Linked DNA regions of Homo sapiens: region 1 is linked to region 2. The links come from fine-mapping of genetic effects on gene expression. A gene starts in region 2. The other region holds a variant in brackets. All regions are shown on one strand. Distances are from middle to middle. Region 1 has its middle 6.6 kb from the start of POLD2. Region 2 holds the start of AEBP1 (AE binding protein 1).

Region 1 (2,901 bases), 25 kb after region 2:
TCAAGCATAAAGTAGGTTTCATTACAAGGATACATCTCTGTGGGACCCAAGGACAGGAAGGTGGCCCCTTTCCTGTCTTTCCTTTGGCCTCAGGGAGGAAGCAGAGAGTTCAAGGGGGGTCCTGGGAGAAGCATGGTGGAGGTGTTGCTGACAGCAAAGGGAGCAGTGGGTTAGATAATATTCTATTTTGGAGCTGTGTGGCTCTTTGTGTCAGTGGCACATCCTAGGGGACATTCCACAGCTGGGAGGGGTGGGGCTGAAGTACCTTGGCAGATGGAAGGTTAGAGGCTGCTCCAGACACCTGGGATGGTAGAGACAGATCAACGAGTCCCAAGGAAAAAGACAGTGAAGGGTTGACAGTGTGTTGGCAGCAGGAGGGAGGGGGGCAGCTAGGAGAGGGGCCAGAAAGAGGAGGTCTTCTCTCTCCATGCACACACATGCATATGCACACACGTGCATATGCACACACACACATGCATGCACACACACCCCCACATGCACATACACACACAGACACCTGCTACATACACACCCCCAACCTCTCACCTGCCACACCACCTTCTATGCCACACACTTGTGTCCACGCCCCCACAGGCATGGCAGCAGACAGCAGGCCAAGGAGAGGCTCCTTCTCACTGCATCTGGCCTCTGCTGTGCACTGCCTCGGGTCAGCAGGGCGGGCCCCATGCCAATGGCCTTTGGTGGGAGACACACCTTGCTACCCAGAGAGAAACCTCTGGGCATGACCTGCTGTAGTTGGCAAACTCCTCGGCCCCACAGCATCTATAAAGGCTCTCAGCCTTCAGTCTCCACAGGTCTGGAGGTTTGTCATGTGCCTTCATTCACTCATGAGATATTGCCAGAGCATCTGCTCTGTGCCAGGGACAGAGTTGTTCCTATCTTTGTGTTTGCTTACAGAAAGCCATAGCATGAGAGTGAGCAGGTGGGCCAGGCAAGGAGGAATGTTGCCCAGACTTGCACTGGGGGATGGCTTCCTAGAGGAGGTGACTCTGGACTGAGGCCTGAAGCCCGTGGAGGTCAGGGAGGGGCTGGGGGCAAGGGGGCCAGAATGCTGGGACAGCAACTCCCCTCACACAACCATAGCAGCAAAGCCTGGAGGGGCCAGGGTAGGAGGTTCTTGGGGAGGCCACAGCCCTGACAGCCTGGCCAGAGCTGCTCTCCTTTTAGCCTGGACTGAGCTCGACTTGACCTCAGCACCCAGCACCCTCCACTCAGAAGGGCTGGTCTCA[A/T]GGTAACTCCCACTGAGACTCACAGGCACTCAGGGACCAGTGAACAGTGAGTCTGGTGGGGTGGGCCTCTGTTTCTTGTAACAAAGGGTCAAAATGAAGAAAGGAATCCCAGTTTTTGGTTAACTTTTCTTAAAACTTTGTCAATGCTACTGTTTGTCTTCATCAGAACATGGGCTAAGATGAGGTACCACTCATCTATTGCTGCAAAACAAACCTGTCAAATCTTACTGGCTCAAAAAATGCAGCGGTTTCTTATTTCTCAGATGCTGTGGGCTGAGCCAGTGGCTCTTTGTCCCTTCTTGCCTGACCTTGGAAGTGGTCATTTGACTGGGTCTGGAGGTCCATCAGAGTCTCCTTCCCAGGGGTCCAGCCTCAGCCGGGGTGGTGCCAGGCCAGGCCTGTCTCTCCAAGTGATCTTTTATCCTGGGCTTTGTCTTATGGATGTCGCGTGGTGGCATTCAGGTTCCAGGAAAGTGAGAACTACAAGGCTGAGGTCAACAAACCACAGGCCAGCCCAGATCTGGGGAGTAGAGAAACAGCCTCATCCTCGTGATGGGAGGATCTCCACATTAAATGATACACAGAACTCTTTTTTCTGAGATGGAGTCTTACTCTGTCCCCCAAGCTGGAGTGCAGCAGTGCAATCTCAGCTCACTGCAACCTCTGCCTCCCAGGCTCAAGCGATTTTCCGGTCTCAGCCTCCTGAGTAGCTGGGATTACAGGCACCCGCCACCACGCCCAGATAATTTTTGTATTTTTAGTAGAGATGGGGTTTCCCTATGTTGACCAGGGTGGTCTCTAGCTCCTGACCTCAGGTGATCTGCCCGCTTCAGCCTCCCGAAGTGCTGGGATTACAGCCATGAGCCACCTTGCCTGGCACTGAATTCTTGAAGTATCCTGTGATGACTCCCCAGTGGTGTGCACACAGGGCTGTGGCTTTCAGGGGCTCTGCAACCCTGGGAGAATGAGGCCATCTGGGGTACCAGCCCACCCCCAAGTCCATCTGCACATTTGATCGAGGGCTGCAGGGTCACTGCCCTGTGGGTATGCCCAGTGGTTCTGAGTTAAATCAGCTTTGCAAGGGGCTTGCTCTGGGCTGACCTCAGAAGAGGAGGCTGGGAAGGTTGGGTTGGTGCTATCAAGAGGTTGGGTAATTCAGACATCTTCATTTTAAGCTCCTGGATATGTGTGGGACACAGAAACTTCCAGGTGCAAGGACTCAGGTTGCCCATGGGCTCTCCAGGCTGTGTGCAGCCAGTTGATTCTCCTGGAGAGGGAGCCCCAGACCCACAGCCTTGCTGCCTTGTGCTCTGCTCTGAGGTCTGTCTGCACAAAGGTCAATAACAGGCTCAAACCCAGCTCCACCACCTCCCAGCTGTGTGTAACCTTGGACAGCTTGCTTAACCACGTGGGGCCAATACTCATACTGTATTGGTTGGGGTTAGGTTCTGTTGTGAGCATGAAAGACTTCAAACAACAGCAGCTTCCATCAGGTGGAGTTTGTTCTCTTCGTGTAGCATTCGATGGGAGGTAGAGGTGATGTGTGATGCCCCCATATGTCAGAGACGCAGCCAGACCCAGCTCACGGCTCCCCCACCCTGTGGCTGTGGCCCTCATCTTCATAGCCCCAGGAGGCTGTGTGCCAGCTAGG
Region 2 (2,901 bases):
TGGCCCATGGACTACCTGTGAGCTTTCTCTTGTGTCCTCATTCCTTTAAGGGGGAATGTCCTCGGAGCTCTGTCCTTAGCTCCCCATTCCTCCAGTATGAGACAGGGACTAGGCTTGAGTCACGGGGGACTGTGCTGTGTCACGCCCTGCCATACTAATGGGACCACTCTGCCTGTTGATGGCCGTTGTAGGGCAGCCAACATTTGCCCTGGAGAAGCCTTATGGCAAACACCAGGCACCAAGGTGCACATCCCTGATGGATCCTGGGATCAGTTGACACTCAATCCACCTGCCTTCTGGGTCCTCTGGGCCCTCTGGGTCCATGTGGCAGCTGGAGGTATGGTAGACACTTTTTAAAAAATGAGTTCTGGTAAGAAGAAGGTGATAAATGGCTATTTGTCCACGTTGGGACCCGGAGGGGAGGGATGGCATGCCCTTACATGGGACTCCTACCCCCAGCGGGGCAGCTGGCCACTCTGAGGGCAGTTTTGCACCTGCCTCCTGGCTGGAAAGTGAGTTCCCACTGTGCTGTCCCTCCCTGGGGCCCAGCACGGGGCCCGGCCCCACACCGACCTGAAGAGGTTGGTAGGATGACTGAATGAATTGACGCTGGGATGCAGCAGGGCCCATGGGCAGAGGCTCCAGAGCCTGGGAAGGATGGGGTGGCCTTTCTGTGGCCCTCCGAATTGAGAGAGGTCTCAGAGGCCTGACACCACGGCTTTCCGTCCAGGGTTCCTGGTCACCCGCGGAGGGCTCAGAGCCCCGGTGGACTCGGGGTCCCGCCTTAAGGGGGGTGCCTAGGGCAGAAGGAGGAGGGATGTCGGCCCCCTCAGACCCGCACCCCAGGCCCTCCCCACCACCTTTCCTTCCCTCAGGCCCTCTGTCTTCCCAGTCGCCCCGCCCCCTGCCCCTCTGTCCTAGGCGCAAGTCTCCGGGCTTGGGACGCTCGCCGCCAGCGCCCGCCCGCCTGCCCCGCCCCTAGCCCCCCGCCCCCCGCCCCCCGCCCCCCCGCAGCCCCTCCGTCCACTCTCGGCTCCTCCTTCTCTTCCTCCTCCTCCTCCCCGGGGGTGGGGAGCCGGCTCCGGAAGCCCCGGCGCCCCCGCCCCGGGCCCCGCCAGCGCTTTGGAGACGGCTATCCGCGCGGGAGTGCGCCACGCGGGGCCGGAGCGCCTATTAGCCGCCAGGACCTCGGAGCGCCCCGACCACCCCTGAGCCCCTCTGGCTTCGGAGCCCCCCAGCACCCCTTCCCGGGTCCCCTCGCCCACCCTAATCCACTCTCCCTCCCTTTCCCGGATTCCCTCGCTCACCCCATCCTCTCTCCCGCCCCTTCCTGGATTCCCTCACCCGTCTCGATCCCCTCTCCGCCCTTTCCCAGAGACCCAGAGCCCCTGACCCCCCGCGCCCTCCCCGGAGCCCCCCGCGCGTGCCGCGGCCATGGCGGCCGTGCGCGGGGCGCCCCTGCTCAGCTGCCTCCTGGCGTTGCTGGCCCTGTGCCCTGGAGGGCGCCCGCAGACGGTGCTGACCGACGACGAGATCGAGGAGTTCCTCGAGGGCTTCCTGTCAGAGCTAGAACCTGAGCCCCGGGAGGACGACGTGGAGGCCCCGCCGCCTCCCGAGCCCACCCCGCGGGTCCGAAAAGCCCAGGCGGGGGGCAAGCCAGGGAAGCGGCCAGGGACGGCCGCAGAAGGTAAGAGCCCAGGGCAGGGCGGGGGTGTGGGGGGCTGGCATCTCAGGTGGGAACAGGGGGATTCGGTAGGGTCTGGCCACTCCCCAGTCTGCTAGGGGAGGAATGGCTGGCTTACTAATGCGCACGCGAGCCCAGATGCCTGGAGGGACCCTGTGCTAGGCCGAGGTCAGCGCTGGCGTGGAGGCACATCCAGCACCCGGGCGGCAGGGCCGCTTTTGGGGGCCGGTGGCTCTAGGGTTGGTGCTGTGGTTGTACGGGTCGCTTATCCCCATTCCTCCAGTACGCGACAGGTACTAGGCTTGAGCCACAGGGGACTGTGCTGTGTCACCCCCTGCCATACTAATGGGACCACTCTCCCTGTTGGTGGCACAGCTTCACGTCGTCCCTCCCTCCTGCCTTTGCCCTCCTACTCCAGGAGGTCTCACGTAGGTGAGAGAGTTTCAGGTGGTGGTGAGCACAGGGCTTCAGGTGGTGGTGAGCAATGGGTGGTCCTACATTAGTACAGGAAATTAGATGAGGTGATGCATCACTGAAGCATTTAACCCACGGCCTCTTGCATAATCAGTTGTCAGTAAATCTTAGCTGTTTTCATCGTGGCCCTCTGGAAGGTGGCAGAGGGTCTTGTGATCCCTGTCTCCCAGGAGATTCCAAGGCACCATCCAACATTCCTGATGTCAGCAGCCCCTCCCCTGCCACCCCAGCTCTAGATCTTTCCTGGCTGCTTCCCACACCCTGGGCTGCCTGTGCCCCTCCTGCCTCTGGCTCTCCTTCCAGGCTTGCTCTCCTGGCTCTGGGGCACCGCTCTAGCAGCCCTGCGTCCCCTGGCTGTCTGCATTTGGTAGCTTTCCTGTGTTTCTGCCAAACTTCCCTCATGCTCCCCACCTCTCATCAGGTTCTCAACAGCACTTGCAGCTCCTGCTTAGGGTCCTGGGAGGATTCCCATGGGGAATCCTCACAACCAGTCCCTGCTCCCTCTCCCAGACTCTGAAATGAGTGTGCAGCCACAAGCTCCCTACCTGTCTTTTCTGTCCTCTGTGTGATCCCTGAACCCCCCAGGACTCCCTATCCTTCCAATCAATTCCAAACCCCTTACTTCTCGAAAGGAGACCACTTCCTCTTCTTTGGGCTTCAATACTCAACCAAGTGTCCCTTTTCTTTGAAGCTTTTCTTGCCCCGTAGGAGACCAGGGGAAGGTCTTGGGCCCATGTCCCTTC

The links. PIP is the estimated chance that this variant, and not a neighbour inherited with it, causes the effect.
Region 1: its variant is fine-mapped to the expression of AEBP1 in whole blood (INTERVAL, PIP above 0.99).

Annotation. Positions count from the first base shown.
Region 1 is chr7:44,128,723-44,131,623 of GRCh38, forward strand. No RefSeq gene overlaps it. Among named protein-coding and RNA genes, the nearest start is that of POLD2, 6.6 kb to the left of the region's middle. The variant A/T (reference allele first, on the strand shown) is at 1,251.
Region 2 is chr7:44,103,232-44,106,132 of GRCh38, forward strand. AEBP1 (AE binding protein 1) reads left to right here and starts at 1,114. Exons shown (of 21, transcript NM_001129.5): 1 at 1,114-1,687. The coding sequence starts at 1,435.